2 separate regions of the Homo sapiens genome follow, and region 2 is linked to region 1. Evidence: fine-mapped expression QTL. Tissue or cell type: T cells. Region 1 holds a variant in brackets; the other region holds the start of a gene. All regions are shown on one strand. Distances are from middle to middle.

Evidence for each region. PIP is the estimated chance that this variant, and not a neighbour inherited with it, causes the effect.
Region 2: STK32C starts here. The variant in region 1 is fine-mapped to the expression of STK32C in T cells (TOPMed, PIP 0.95).

The regions. Positions count from the first base shown.
Region 1 is chr10:132,192,484-132,200,476 of GRCh38, reverse strand. It overlaps DPYSL4 (dihydropyrimidinase like 4), which reads right to left. Exons shown (of 14, transcript NM_006426.3): 3 at 7,635-7,819; 4 at 5,468-5,632; 5 at 3,555-3,616; 6 at 3,376-3,456; 7 at 1,994-2,062; 8 at 1,506-1,626; 9 at 1-121. Among named protein-coding and RNA genes, the nearest start is that of DPYSL4, 9.5 kb to the right of the region's middle. The variant CT/T (reference allele first, on the strand shown) is at 3,545.
Region 2 is chr10:132,304,576-132,311,939 of GRCh38, reverse strand. It overlaps STK32C (serine/threonine kinase 32C), which reads left to right and starts at 3,990. Exons shown (of 12, transcript NM_173575.4): 1 at 3,990-4,368. The coding sequence starts at 4,107. RefSeq lists enhancers at 241-535, 2,177-2,719, 2,720-3,264 and a silencer at 3,517-4,166.

The sequences.
Region 1 (7,993 bases):
GGGTCTGGGTTGACAGGGGGTGATGTGACGAAGGCTGCGGCCTTGGCCCAGTTCTTGCTCCAGTAGTGTGAACCGTCGGTGCCCAGGCTGGCGGTGATGGGCTCCCCAAACACGACCACCCCTGCAGCACGAGGCCCATGAGAGGTGCCCCACCGACCACCTGCACCCCCTGGGGCCCCGAGAACTGCTGCTGCTGACACCCACGACTGCCCCTCACTTTCCTTGCCTGGGACAGCTTGTGCCCAGTCTAGAGTCCCTGGCCCTGGGCAGGAAGTGGGGCAGAGGCCTGGGTCGCGGGCAGACGTGGTTGGCCCTGGGGGTCCTTCTGGGAAAGGGAGTCTGGCCTGCGGACGCCAAGTCCTCTCTCTGCCCACACCCCACCCCAGGACCCCGGGCACTCCAGCGGGGCCAGGGCGTGCCTGTGGGCTGCGAGGCACAGTGAACTGCATGGCGGCTGACTGGCCGGGGGTGCCCTGGCCATGGCCTCACCAGGGTTCCAGCTCACAGCTGAGGCAGCTCCCACCAGTGGGTGGGGGAGAAATGCTCCCAGGTGGGGTGGGGCACCCCCCGAGAAGAGCCTGGCGGGTGGGGTACCCCTGAGAAGGGCCTGGCCTGCTGCCCCGAGGCTGCTTGGTGTCCTGAGTGAGGCCCGGGCCTCACCCCTGCAGACCCCCATTCACCTGCACGCCTCAGAGTCCTTTTCCCAGTTAACTGAGTGGGTTTCAGTTTCAACCCTCGATGCAGGAAACACATAGAAGGGCACCACCCACCACCACCACCACCCCGCCCCCCACCCTGCCCAGGGACCTGCACAGCCCCAGGCAGGCCCAGAAAACGAGGTCTCTCAGGACTCAGTGCGGACAGCAGGAGGAGGGGAAACCAGACCAGATCCAGAGGCCGCCTAGGGGATGCCCCCTCATTTACCCGTCACCTGGGTTCTGTGCCTGGATCCTTGGCCCTCTCCAGCCCCAGTGATTGCTGGGGCTCCATGGACCCTCTGAGCCCAGTAGCCTCTGGGGGACACCACAGTCAAGCCGCTGCCAATCACAGCTCTGGGTGGCACCCCCCCGCCCAGGCCTGAGGCTCTCTGCAGTGCCAGGCTCCAGCTGGCTGGCATTCTGTGGGCAGGTAGCACCCCGGCTCTGGACACAGCAAATAGCAATGTAGGGAGGGCCTCCTTGTTGGAACTGGAATTCTCTCTTGGAGACCCTCCTCATCATTCCATTCTCCCCACACCCACCCCCACTGGAAATGGGATGAGCGTCCCCATGTTTTGCCTCAGGGCCCCTGGTGAGCAGCTGCTGCTCCAGCAAGGCTGGAAACTCAGGTCCAGCCCCTGCCCCGATGCAGGGACTCAGGGTCCAGTGCCCCACCCCGATGCAGGGACTCAGGGTCCAGTGCCCCGCCCCGATGCAGGGACTCAGGGAACCTGCATCTCCCCAGGGCTGCACCCAGGAGGCCGAGACCATGGCCCCTCGGCATCAGAGGCGGGGCTGGGTGCTCACCTCTGCGCTTGGCCTGAGCGATGGCGTCGGCCGCCCCCTTGCTCATCACCTTGGTGACGTACAGCGGGCAGTTTGCCTGCTTGGCGATGGTGACAGCTCGGTACACCGCCTCAGCCTCCACCTGGGGACGAGATGAGAGGGATGAGGCCACACGAGGGCCCTGGGGCTCCAGACCAGTGTGGGCAATGGGGATGCCCAGGTGTCACCCATGGGATCCCAGGCTCAGGGCAGCCTAGTAGGAGCGGCCCAGCCTCGGGCTCAGTGCCTGGGCCTGCCCACGCCACCTTCTGGGCCTCGGGTACAGGCTGTAGGGTTGTGGGGGGATGGAGGACAAGTGCCTGGCACGGGGAGGATTCACGCCTCCCAGATGAGGTCGGGGCGAGCACAGTGGCAGGGCCAGGAGCCCAGGGCCAGGGTCAGCACAGCCCCAGGCAGCAGTGGTCTGGGCGGAGTTGGCTCGGGTGTGCTGTGGTGCCCTGGGATCTTACCTCCTCGGGGTGGCTGAGCACGTGGCCCTCGGGGCCAGTGATGCCGAGCTCCAGCAACCGCTTCTGCTCCTAAAGAAACCAACAGGATGCCTCGCTCCAAGCCCTGAAGGGAGCCTGGGCCTTGGATGCTAAGCCCAAGGCTGGGAGGCCCCATTCCCCAAGTGGTCCTGGACCCCCAGGCCTCCCAGAATTTCCCAGCCACAGAACACTCAGAATAGAGGGCAGAGGGGCTTGGAGAGGTGTGATTCCTGCTCCCTGAGTTACCAAGGAGGGGACAGCTCGGATAGGGGAAAGTGGCTCCCCCAAGGCTGCAGGGCTCCTGACTGATGGCACCAAGACCCCACCCTCCCACCACTATGCCCATCACGCTGCCTCCCCCAGCGGGGGCATGTGTGGGGGTGTGCACAGGCAGGGAGGGCTCTGCAGGTCAGGAATGGACGACCACTCCTTCCTCCAGCACTGCCTTTCCGTGCAGATTTGCACTACGGCATCCGCTCGTGTCAGGGAAGACATGGTACCGGCCAGAAGCAGCAGCCCCAATACTGAGGCTCCCTCCCGCTGTATGTGGAGCATCCCTAGACCCAGGACAACCTCCTGACGGTGCAGCCGGGGCCTGGCCTTGGGCCACAGAAGTGTTTGTGATGCCCCGATGCCCTCACAGCTGGACGGGTGGACGAGGACACTGGGGACCCCCCACATGCCCCTGCCCGAGTGCCACCACCTTCCTGTAGAGCTCAGGAGGTGGGCAGAGCCCGTCCCGTCCCACGAAGTCTCACTGTGGGTTTGCAGTGTCAGGGAGGTGTGTCCTGTGTGGTGACCCCCACTGAGGTCCCACGGGTATGGGGTGGCCCACTCTCTGAACTCCATCTGTACCTGTGGGTGCCTCTGCTAGAGGGGAAAACAAGGTGCAGGGCCAAGGTTGCCTCAGCCCCAAGGGCCTGGGGGGTCGGCGCCACTGCACGCGGGCTCAGGCCCTCCCCAGCCCGGTGGGATGTGTCTGAAGGATGTGGCCCTGTCAACATGGGTGCCCTTGGCTGGAAGGAAGGTGGTAACCCAACCCCCAGCGGGTACCCCGCTCCACAGGAGGGGCCTCGATCCCTGGGGCTGACACTTTGCTTTTGAGGTATTTTGGATAAGAAGTGTTGATCAAGGAGAAGCTGTTTTATGGCCTCAAAGCTCCCCATCACCCCCCAGTCTCTCTAACTCACTGGTTGACCTTTGACTCGGGGTAAGCTATGACCCTCCCTCAAGGTTTTGTGGGATTCTGTGCTGATGTCTGCGTATCATGAAAGTCACCCTCAGACCCCTGCCCCACCCCACAGGCAGCCCCTGCCCCACGGCAGCCCCTGTGCCTGCCCCACGGCAGCCCTGCCCCACGGCACCTCCTCCACGATGTCCCCGTTCTCAGCGTGCACCTGGGCCAAGGCCCCCAGGTCCCGGATGATGCTGAAGATCTCGTACATCTGGGAAGAGAAGTGGTGGCGTCCTGGGTGGGGCTGCGCCTGCACCAGCAGCGGCCTGGGATATACCTGCCCACTCCGTTCCCCACGC[CT/T]GCCCTTACCTGGCTGTCGCTGCACTGGCACCGGTCCTTGTATGCCATGAAGACCAGGAAGGAGTTCACACCTGGAGAAGAGGCAGGGGTCAGAGGCTCAGCCATCACCAGTCAGACAACCTACGGAGCCTCTGCTGCTCCTGCCCACTGGAGGGTTGGGGGTCTTGGGCCCCTCCCCCGCAGTGCTTCCCTCACTGGCTTGCCAGCCCTGGGAGCAGTCCCCCGCTTCCATGCACACACCAGCAAGCTGGGAAGTGAGGCGGAGGCAGCTACATCCAGGCCCTCCTTGCCTGCTCCTGTGCTCCGGGTTAGGAACTGATTGTCCACCCAGCGGCAAATGCAGGTGAGAACCCCTCACACCCATCCAGCAGACCCCCCGTTACTGGAAGAGCCGCTGTGCCTGGGCTCTCGGCCTGGGTTCCACTGGCTCCCTCCTGGAAGTGCGGCCAGGGCCGCGCTGTGCTGGGGACCTGCATTCTGGCCGTCCAGCACATCCAGCACCTGCCTGCAGGGCCTTGGAGCCCCACTTGCCATGCCTGGCTCACAGTGCAGGCTTGTGGGACCACCCAGATCTCAGGGCTGGGCCCTTAGGACGAGCAGAAGGATGAGGGGCTGCCTCTGACGTTGGGGCCCAAACAGGAAGAGGGCTGAGCTCTCCTGTTTCCTGGGCAGCCACAGCCCATCCACCTCCCCCAGGACTCGGAACTTGTGTGGGGACCGGCCTGGGCCTGGAGGCAGGATCCCAACCTCCCATCACTCAAGCCCACCCAACCCATGGCATCTCCTCCTCGCTGGGTGGAAAGTGCTAGTGTGACAAGCTAAGGCACACTGGGGAAACTGAGTCACACTGTGCCCCACAAGCCATCCCTCCAGGTAGCAACCTGTATGTGACCTGGAGTTTGAGGCCTGCCCCCGAGTGTCTGAGGAAGGTCATGTTTGGGTTGCGCAGTGCTGTCCCTGCAACACTACCCCGTGGGCACAGGACTGAGGACTCCTGCATGGCTCTTGGGGAGCAGAGGCCCCAGCACTGCCAACACAGGGTGAGGGGAGGTGCAGGCCCTGCTTCCACCTCCGCTCTGAGACACGAGGCCACAGGCCTCCCGAGTCCACTCACAGAACAGCATGGGTGGCAGAGCAGCTGCCTGGAGTGAGGCCCAGGGACTGAGGATTGACGGGCTCCACCAGCCCCCGGGCAGGGAGGTGAGGGGTCCTGACATCAAGGGGCACCTATGTGATGACCGTCACCCTCTGAGGAATGGGAACCCAGAGGAATGGCCTTGAAGAAATGCCCCTGCCTCCTTCAGGTCTGTAGGGGACGGGTAGCAGGCATCCCTGGGAGTGCCAGGGCCTTGACAGGCTCCTGGGCTTGCTTGGACCCCATCCCGCCCCCACCTCCAGGCTGGAAGCTGTGGGCCGGACTCAGATTAGGAGAGATCGGCTATAATCAGATATGCCACTTGTCAAACCCACTATGAAACTCTGATGTAGTTTTAGCTTCAGGGTTTTTTGTGGGGAAAAATGTTAACTTGTTTATAGACTGATCTGTTTTAGCATTGGTGACAACAAAGAGATATGGATTTAAAAGGGTCTCCCTCTGAAAGGATCCCCAGATGCTAGGAGACTGGGGAACTGCTGCTCTTCCACCCTGGGCAGCCTCTCTTCTAAGAAACGACGGATCTGCTGCATCTTTTCATCAGGAGGACAATTCCAGGATGGGTCCCTCGGATTGGGAAAGAGAAGGCCTCTTGGTCTAGAGCCTTTGAAGGTGGGATGGGCCTTCAAATGACTTTTCTCCAACTTCCACTCAAACCTGGACACCAGCCCCCAGGGCAGAGCAGCACCATCGGCAGAACACAGGGTCAGGGCAGAGGCTCCTCCACCAGGCTCCATGCCCGCCCTCCAGCCCCTCCAGCCACCCTCACCCTTCTCCTTGACCAGGGCCTCCAGCTCCTCCTTGATGCTCTCATGCCATCGGGTGATGTCCACGTGCAGGGAGTAGTCGCAGCAGGCCGCGCTGTCCGCCCGCTCCCGCCACTGCTCGTAGGCCGCCAGCAGGCTCACACCCGTGTCGGGGAAGACGTGGTCCACTGTGAAGGCAGCATGGTCAGCAGCTTCCCCCACTGGTCCCTGGTTCCCACCTCTGCCTCCTCCATGGGAGATTCTGTTTCATGTTCCCAAGAGACCAGAGGACCATTTGAGGGAGACACAGCAGAGGCCACCGGCCCCTGAGAGAGGATGACGCTGCCACGAACCCGTTCTATTGCTTTGTTCAAAGAGGAACCTTCTGTCCCAAGTGCCCCAGCCACCCTCTGAGCACAGAAGGGAGAGGGGAGAAAGGAAAAGCCCCACCCCAAACCATCCCTACTCCCACATCGCACTTGGAGGAGCACAGGAGGTCGGGGCTTTGCCCTGCCTCCAGCTCCTGTCAGGCTGGGTGAGGCACCCCGAGGGCCAGGCTGGGCCAGTGCGCTGTCCAAGGTGCTGGGCCCCACCTCTGGGTGCCTTCCTAGAACAGTGGGAGCTGGGCTGGTTTCCCGAGTGCCCCACAAGACTTGAAAGGGGCCATCCTGCCCCCTGCACACAGCCATCATGCTGCTGCCCCACCAACCACACACCCAAGGCCCGAACACTGCTCACTGGCCTCTCCTGGTGCAGCCAGACACAGCTCCAAGCCAGGTGGTCGGACAGGAGGGCGCACCCGCCAGGGATGCCTTCCTCCAGCACAGCCCTCCCTCGGGCCCCTACTCATCCCAACAAGATGAAGTGGGCACCCAGCCTCCCTGCAGCCACCCACAGTGCCAGCCTGGGCCTGCAGGCCGAGGAAGACAGAGGCAGGATAGAGGCCAGCCTCGTGTCTGTGGTGTTTCTCTGTCTTCGCGGGGACCCACAGCTGGCCGGGTGCCTTGGCACTGGCACGAGGCAGGTGGTCTCGACTGTGCAGACGTCCTGACCGGCTTGGGCCGCCCCCTGAAGGGCGCGAGCAGTGGCCAGTCTCCTCAGACTGCAAGATGGGCTGCTGCTGGTGTTTTCTCCCTTTGTGGCTGAGTAAACCAAACCAAGCTGTGATTTGGTAATGGCTAAATGTCCCGCGAGGTGTTTCAGGGTCCTCAGAGCTGCCCTCCCCGGTGTGCCAGGGACACAAAGCAACTGACGTGCATTAACTCACACATGCCTCAGAAGCTCATGAGGCCAGTGTTCTGTTTTACAGATCAACAAAGTGTGACTTATAAAAGCCAGCTGAGTTTATCTGGAGTCACACAGCTAGAAAACCATACAACCAGGTTCAGCTAGGCTCCTCAGACCCGTTCTCAACCACAGCAGCGATGTCTGTGCCAGACGGACGCCGCAGAGTGAATGGCACCCAAGGCCACACAGTGCAGTCAAGGTCTAGGCTCTGAGGCCTCGTCCTGCCTCCTGAGCTCACCACGTGCTCGTGGTGGGCAGGCGGACTCCACTCACCCACCTGTTAAACTAGGCTTAGCTGAGCCCAGCTGGGCTGAGCTCAGAGGGTTTTAGGAGGAGAGCATGTGAGCCGATGGGTGTCAGGATAGAGCCCGTGCCGGGCACGCAGCCAGCACTACAGAAATAGCAACTCGGGTTATTTTTTGATGGGATAATAATGAGCATTGCTTTTATCTTTTTCTAAAAATACAGTCTCCATCCTTAACTCTTCTTGACATGAGCAAGAACCTTCCAGATATGAAGCTTCCGAGGCATGTGGCTCAAGGTCAAACATGTATCTGGCATTTCAGACAGCATGACCCCTCCCCTCGCCCAAGGCATTTGAGTTTTCCAACCCCCAACTCCGAGCTGGCTACTAGTGCCCAGGGAAGAACAAGTGGACACACGTCAGTCACTGATTTCCAGTCCTGGAAATCCCAGGAGCATTCCAGCACTGGCCACACAGAAACACCCAGAGTGAGACACAGGGATTAGAAAAGCACTCCAGGTTCTCAGACAGATGCAATAAAGGCAGACAGCTGAGAAAGGCACCTTTAGGCGACACTCCTCCTCCCACACACACCTGGCCAGAGAGAGGGGCAGCAGACGCTGGCTGCCCCCTGTAGAGGAGGAGACCCAGACACTCACAGATCATGGTGGTTCCTCCTGCTAGCGCTGCCTTGGTGCCCTGACAGAAGTCGTCAGCCGGTGTCATGCCCAGGACAGGCATCTGCAGCCTTGTGTGGACGTCAACGCCACCAGGAAGGACCATCAGGCCGTGGGCGTCAATGGTCTTGATGCCCCCAGGGACGATGAGGTTTTCTCCGATTTGTCTGAAAGCAGCAGAGATTTCACTGGTTACAGGGAGCCCAGGTCAGAGCCCAGATGGGCTCCCAGCAATGCAGCAGAGCTAAAGGGTTTGCATGAGCTCCAGACCCCGAGGAAAAGGCCAGCACGGCCGGCCACTCACTGGACTAGCTCCTCGGGAGTGCCAGGGAGCAAAGCAT
Region 2 (7,364 bases), 110 kb before region 1:
TGCTGCCCATGGATGTGGTGGGTTAAATGGTGGCCTTTTGCCACCAAAGGACATGTCCGTGCCGGCCCTGTGAATGTGACCTTATCTGGAAAGAGGATCTTTGCAGATGTAACTAAGTTAAGGATCTCAAGATGATATCATCCTGGAGTAGGGTGGGCCCTAAGTCCAATGACAAGTGTCCTTATAGAGGAAGAAAAGGGCGGAGTAGACAGATGAAAAGGCAACGTGATGATGGTGGCAGCAGGGGCTGGGGTTGTGGGTCCTTAAGCAGAGCTGAGCGGTGAACTCATGCTCGGCCCCGGCGCACTGCAGTGGGGGCGAGGGCTCCTTCCTAGTGGCTGCAGCCCGTCCTGCATGTTCTCCGTCGCTGTGCTCCTTCCTGAGTCACCAGGTGGCCACATGACCTTTAAAATCAATACTGTCACCATAGCAACCAAGTGTCCCCACACGTGGGCTCCAAGGCCCTGGCCTTCCAAGAATCCTCAGTCCCAGGCCCCGCCAGGGCTGAATCTGAGGGCGCCACGGCCATCTGTCTTCCATTTCCCAGGAGGGAGGCTGTCCGTGGATTCTCCACATAGGTGGACACCAGCATCGGAGTCCCATGGGAGCCCATTTCCTGTTTTGGGGGTCAGTTCTGAGATGTGTTTTCCAGCAGGAAACAGCACACACGAATCGTGTGATCTGAGGAGATTTAATAAAAGGACTCTTAACAAAGGCGTGGGCAGAGCATGTGTTAATTTCATAATGATGACAGAAGATGAAGCACACATCTCGGTGTGACTGAGCTGTGTGCCAATTATGTGGCAACGGAGGACCCATGTCCAAGGCATGTCCCTCAGGAGGCGTGGCTTTATGGACGAATTATGAACAAATGCACATGAAGCCTGGTGTCAGGGACTGCACCTTGTCCCCCAAACCACCCCCAGCCCTTCAGCACATGCCACGGCCACTCACTTGCTGTCCTGCAGCATGGACCCTCCTGTCCTCCCGCACAAGCCGGTTTCTACCTTAGGGCCAGCTCCTGCTGTTGGAACCCGGACACCTGGCCTCCCTTGGGCTACTCGTTCATGCTCCGGCCTCAGCATCAAGGTCACCTGCTCAGAGACTCATGCTGGACTACCCAAGCTAAAGTGGTCCCACGATCATGCACGTGCTGCCCAGCCATGTGCCTTCCTGTGTGCTCCTGCGTGCTAGACGTCAGTGCACTGAATGCATTTATCTGTCACATTGTCACTTGGTCTCCTGTCATTGGAAGGGGCAGACACCATCGCTGCCCTAATGAAGTTGACGTTCCCGGGCAGCATGGGCACACAGGGGAACTCAGGAATTCTCTACTGGCCTCACTGCCCCTTCCCATCCACAGCTGACTCTGTCCCAGCCTCAGTCCCTCCCAGCATCCCCCTAGAACTTCAGAGCTACCTCCCATGAGGCACCAGGGGTTGGCATCCTCTTGGGGACAGCAGTTCCTGACCCCTCCTGTCTCATGCCTACACTGTGCACCTCTTAACGCTCAGTCTTGTGTTTGCCTGGACCCTGAGCCGTGGCTGGACAGTACAAGAGTTGCACCTGGACAGTACAAGAGTTGTGCCCTGAGCCCACAGGCCCCTCCAGGGCTGATCTGCACTGGCCAAATCTTAGGACCCGGCATTCTTTTGGGAGCTGCTGTTTCCCTACAGATCCTTCCTGTTTCCTGACTGAGAGGCAGGTGCCTGGCTTGGTGTTTGAGGCTCACAGCAAGGGTGAGGTTGGAGGGTCTCCTAGTTAAGTGTGCAGATGTCCCCATGAACCCCTCTGCCCCCCTGCACTCTTGTCTTCTGCAGGACTTGGTATCCCTAGGTCAAGAGCCCCTTTGGACCCTCAGACCAGAGGACTGTCCATCCCCAACTGCCCGGGCCGGGGAGGCGTCCTGGGCTCTGGCTGTATTCACATTCTCCCGCCTTTTGGGGTCCTGGTTACCTGCAGGTCCTCAGCCTCTCCAATCTTCAGAGTCAGCTTTCTACCTGCTGTCTGAAGTCTATTAACATGTCTTCCCTTCTCCTGTTCCCTCTTAGGTGGTGGTGGGGACGTTATATCTTTTATTCCTTTTCTGCCACTTTTAGGGGTCAGAGGGAGAGGAGGAGAGGCGATGATGTAAGTTCAGAGGCTGCGTGTTTTGGGAGGAGCCCTGGGGAGTCTGATGTGTGCACCGGGTACGCAGGGTTCCAGGCACTGCCCTGCCTTGGTACCTCCCCTTCCAAACGCTCCTTCACCACTCCTGCTGGGATGGGCACCGAGGGCTTCCTCTGAGGCAGGTGCTGAACCCACTGCCTTCTGCGTGCCTGCTGGAGAATGGCAACTTTGAGGGAGAGCAGGGAACAGAGCTTCGCAGCTGCAAGGGCTGAAAACTCGGCTCTGTGCACTGGAAGTTAGAGACCGATGCGTTTGTGCTAGCCAGGCAGGGAGAGCTGCGGTGGCTGGTTGGTCAGGTAACCTAGGTTATGCTGCCATAAAAATACCCTCTAAATCTCAGTAGTGAAATGCATGCCATGTGTCCTAAGCGGGTGCATGTCCAGGTGGGTGCATGTCCTAGGCGGGTGCATGTCCAGGCGGGTGCATGTCCAGGCGGGTGCATGTCCTAGGTAGATGGGCATGGTTCCATTCCTTATAGTCCCCAAGGGATGGGGGCTCCTGTTGGCCCAGAAGCCACACAGACTTCCCGTGCTCACATTTCATGCATCAGGCGGTTAGGGCGGGCGGCCACACTGAATGTCAAAGGCCGTGGGGAGGCAGGGCTCACAGTGGCTGAATGACAGGGTAGACAGTTGTGTGCGGTGGGAGGGACGGGAGCGGGAGACACTGGCCTTGGAGCCATGTTGGGGATCCGCTCATCGTCCGGGCGGGCAGCAGGAAATCCCATCTAGGATTTCACCGAGGAGGAAGAGACCCCGTCTTTGTGTCCTGGTTACAGGGCAGAACTTAAGGAGGTAAAGGCTTCCTAAAGTCAAACAGCCCGGTAGCAAAAACTGATTCTTCAGTGACAAGCGCCAGGGGCAGGCGGCGAGGCTCCATGCAGAGCCGCGCCTTCTCCAGGGCACTCCAAGGCGCCCAGCACTTTCCGCGCAAGGTCGCGCCTGGCCCTGCGCAGGGGCAGAGGTGCCCGGAGGTCAAGCCGCGCCCCAGGCCTCCGAAATACGCCGAGTGCCGAGGCCCCTGTCGCATCTGGACAAGGGGACCCTGGGCGACTCGGGCACGCGGTCTCAGGCCGGACGGGGGTCGCGAGGATGGCACGGGGGTGCCCGAGAGCGCGGGCGCACGTGCTCAGGGCTTAGCGCCCACCCCAGGCGCCCGCGTGTGCGCGCGCGCAGCCAGGCCCGCCCTGCCCCACCCCACCCTCTGGCGCAGCGCTTGGACTCAGCCTGCCGCCTCCTGACCGTGAGCCGGGCTCTGCCCGGCAGATTCCCGCCGCCCGCATCCCGGGCCTGCAGCCCGGCCTCACCCTGCGCAAAGCAGAAGGCTGGAGTTTAGGGCTCCCCGCACTGGGCGGCGGAAGCCCGCGCGCCGGCTGTTTTCACGAAGAAGGCAGGGGAGGGAGGCCCCCGGAGACCGCGAGAAGGTCCCGCCGCCGTGCCGGGCACAGCAGTCCCCGTGCCAGGGACGCCGACCTCCGGGGCCCCAGGATACCCGTGGGGACGCTCCCTGCCTCCCTCGCTCTCGTACCCGCCGTCTAGTCTGAGCCGTGGTCCCCGTGTCCCGGCGAACCACAGCCCCCATCCCTAGACTGGTGGCGGCCACCCACTCCCTAGCGACACTCCAGGCACTAGCCCCGCCCCTGCCCCGCCCCCGGCTCGGCCCCGCCCCTACCCTTCCCGAAGCTCCGCACCTGCCACGCCCCGGCGCTCAGCTCCGCCTCGACCCCTTCCAGGAGCTCCGCCCCGCCCCCGCCCCTTCCAGAAGCCCCGCCCCTGCCCCGCCCCCAGCGCTCGCAATCTACGGGGCGGGTTCCACCGCCCAGAAGAGCGCACGGCGGGCGCTGCCGGCCCCGAGCGCTCCCGCTACCACTGCCGCTCCCGGCCCTGCCGGCCGGCCATGCCCCGAGTTCCGGCTGCCGCGCGCACCCAGACCCGGCGATGAGGAGTGGCGCCGAGCGCAGGGGCAGCAGCGCCGCGGCGTCCCCGGGCTCGCCGCCCCCCGGCCGCGCGCGCCCCGCCGGCTCCGACGCGCCCTCGGCCCTGCCGCCGCCCGCTGCTGGCCAGCCCCGGGCCCGGGACTCGGGCGATGTCCGCTCGCAGCCGCGCCCCCTGTTTCAGTGGAGCAAGTGGAAGAAGAGGATGGGCTCGTCCATGTCGGCGGCCACCGCGCGGAGGCCGGTGTTTGACGACAAGGAGGACGGTGAGTGCGGGCACGGGGACGACGTGGGGGCCGCGCGCTATTGCAGGGGCGGGCGCGGCTGGGCGGCTTTTTCCCGCAGGGGTTCCCCCGGTGTCCGGGACGGCTTCCCGGGGCGCCCCGGCTTCCGGAGAAGCTCGCGCCGGGTGGCTGCGGCCCCACGCGAGTTCTGGGCGCCCGCCCGCGTCCTCCGTTTCTAGTGGCGGCGCCGCAGGAGGAGCAGGCTGGGCCCGGGCCCTCGGGGCGAGGGTCCCCCGCGGCTGTGGCGTCTCCGGGCTTGCGCGCGCCTCCGCCCACCGCCCGTGGCAGCCCTGCTTTCCGCTTTCCGTGATCCGCTCGGGCCCACGTGCGGGCTCGTTTGTACTTTGCAGTTAGAGAGGCGCTCACCTGTGCCGCCCGAGTGCGAGTGAGGCTCCTGCCCCACAGGTGGCGGGGCCCGGCCGCTCAGAGGCTCAGTCTCCTTGGTGACCGCGCGGTGTCCATCCTCTGCTCACCCATGTGCGCTGGAGGCAGGGCCAGGCCGTTGTGCAAAGACCTGCCCTGCCAGGAACGAGTGCGCTGCTGAGTCCTGTAGATAAAGCCGCCAACCCCGGGGACTGGTGTCTCCTGAGTGACCGTGCAGCCGTGGGCGCCATAGAAAGCAGAGAAGGCAGGTGAGGTGACATGGGACAGGCCTGCAGGGACACCTCCCGGGGTGCCAGGGGGCCCCGGGGACCCCCGAATTATCACCTGCAGGGAGATGTGGTGCCGCGTCTGCCTGTGGGCACTGTAATACAGTCACATGCAGACATACAGCTCTTTTCTACAGGTAACATGCAAATCATTTAAAATCGTACATTGATGACACATTTCATGTTTTTTGACATTTTCTTAAAATACTTGAAATGTGCATTTTTCATTTATAGATAGCGTGCAGAGGTATGATGGATCCTTCAAAATTTTAGAGCCCAGCGCTCAGGAGCCAGGCTATTTACTTGCGATAAATAATTTAAGCATTATGGGAAATTACAGTAATACGACCTCAGGCCGGCGTTGGTGAGTGTGGGGCCGTGCACCGCCGTTCCTCCGGGAGACGGCACCGGGGATTCATGGTGTGCTGCCTAGAAGGAGGGCTGAAGGCCCAGCCACACCAGGCCCCACACGCTCCAGGGTGGCCCGTCACTGTGTCCTGAACTTCGGGACAGCAGAACTCACGATGGTGAATGTTTGAGAAATGTTTTTGTTTTTAACATAAATATTCAAAGTAAAGAAAGCCCAGAGTGAACTAGGAGCTGATCAGGAGGCAGATTTGCCTCTCGTTTCTGGCTGCGGGTTGAGAGAACGTCTGAGAAACGCATCTGGTTTAGCACTTGCTGGTGTCAGCCAAGAGCTGGCTGCTCTTCTGGGTCTCGGCACCGTGCTCTCCGGGGGTGGGAGTGGAGACAGTGGTGTGGCACTGGGCTGCCTTCAGCTTTGTAGGGTAGACTTCCCTGTGTGTTCACAGTGTGTTATGTCACAGAATTCAAGGATCACTAGAAAGGCAAAAAGAGCAAGCACAGAGTCTGTCTGTGGGGCTCACGGTCTGACTTGGGAATTCTTTCACATCCCCAGCATCACCGTATTTGCCTGTAGTAGGACGGCAGAGATTCGGCTGACGGTGTCCCACGGATGCTGCTGGCTCCGTATGGCTTGGTATGCAGCCACATCCCCAAACTGAGCACCCGCCGGGACTCAGCTGGGCTTTGTGTGGTGAAATCAGGAGGGCAAGACTAGGCCCTGGCCCGAATAGCAGAGGACATCTCTGGGCGGTGACCGCTTCCCTCCGCTTCTTCCTGTCACTGGCAGGGCACAGACAACTTGGGAGTCATAGCACAGGGTTTGCAGAAGAATGTTCTGCACCTCTGAGTGTGGATGCCGGGGACTCGTGTTGGTGGAAGGGATTCAGTTTGGAAGGAGAAAGGAGAGTCTTTTAGGAAGGGACTGTTGCCCCTGAGTCCCACCCCTTTCAGGTTGGTGCAGTCATTTGCCTGGTACTTTCGTGGCCCCGTGGCAGCACTGGCTTAAGGAGGCCCTGGTGCTGTGTTGGTGTCTCGAGTTTACTGAATCTGCACGGTTGCTATGGCAATGCTAGACCTTCCGATGAATTTTTTAGATTAAAACACCTAATTAATATATCAAATTTAGTATGCAGAGAAAAGGAAAAAAGAAATTAAGAGTGCTGTTTAACAAAGTGCCAGGTAAATTTCAACTGATAGGCATAGTTGCGACATATAAGACTAAATGTCCTCTGTTCCTTTTAATCCTTGTGGACTCCAGAACCATTTTCCTAATTTGGCAGATATTTGGTGCATGTACAGAATTCTCTGCACGTCTTTGTCATGCCAGAACTGAGGGTCTCCAGTTTTCCTTCCCCTCAGCCCCTCACATGCTCCCATTCTATCCCTTCTCTGACTTCGGTGAAAAATTCATTTTTGGGGTTGAACTTGGTTAGGGGGTCTTTCTGCTGCTGCTCTGCACCAGAGCTGCATGGCGTTGGGCGAGCCCCTTCATTCCTCTCTGTCTTGGTGTCCTGGTGATACCAAGTGAACCTGAGAGGAGGCTCCGGTACCTTCCCGCTAAGCAGCTCTGCAACCTGGGGGGCGCTCGCCCGTCTCGGGGTCACAGCATTGAGTCTCCAGCCTGACGTGGCATTAGCCCGCCAGCAGGAAGTAGCTCCTCCCTGAGGGGCTTTGCCTTCATCTGGGGAAGGCTGGAGTGGACAGGCCCTTGCAGGCTGTGGACGGCCCGCCCTGGGCGCCGGGCCGGGCAGGCAGTGAGGCAGGACCAGGGGCCACCAGACTCCTCAAGTCATCTCTTAAAATTAGAAACACCTTTGTTTTTTCCTAATTATGAAAGCATTAAAATGTATGCATTTAAAAACATTCTATACTTTATGCCACGGTATCTGTAACTTCAGCATTGGGATCACGGTGTCACCTCCCAGCCTTTTTCTGGAAATACAGTCCCAGGTACAGCCGTGG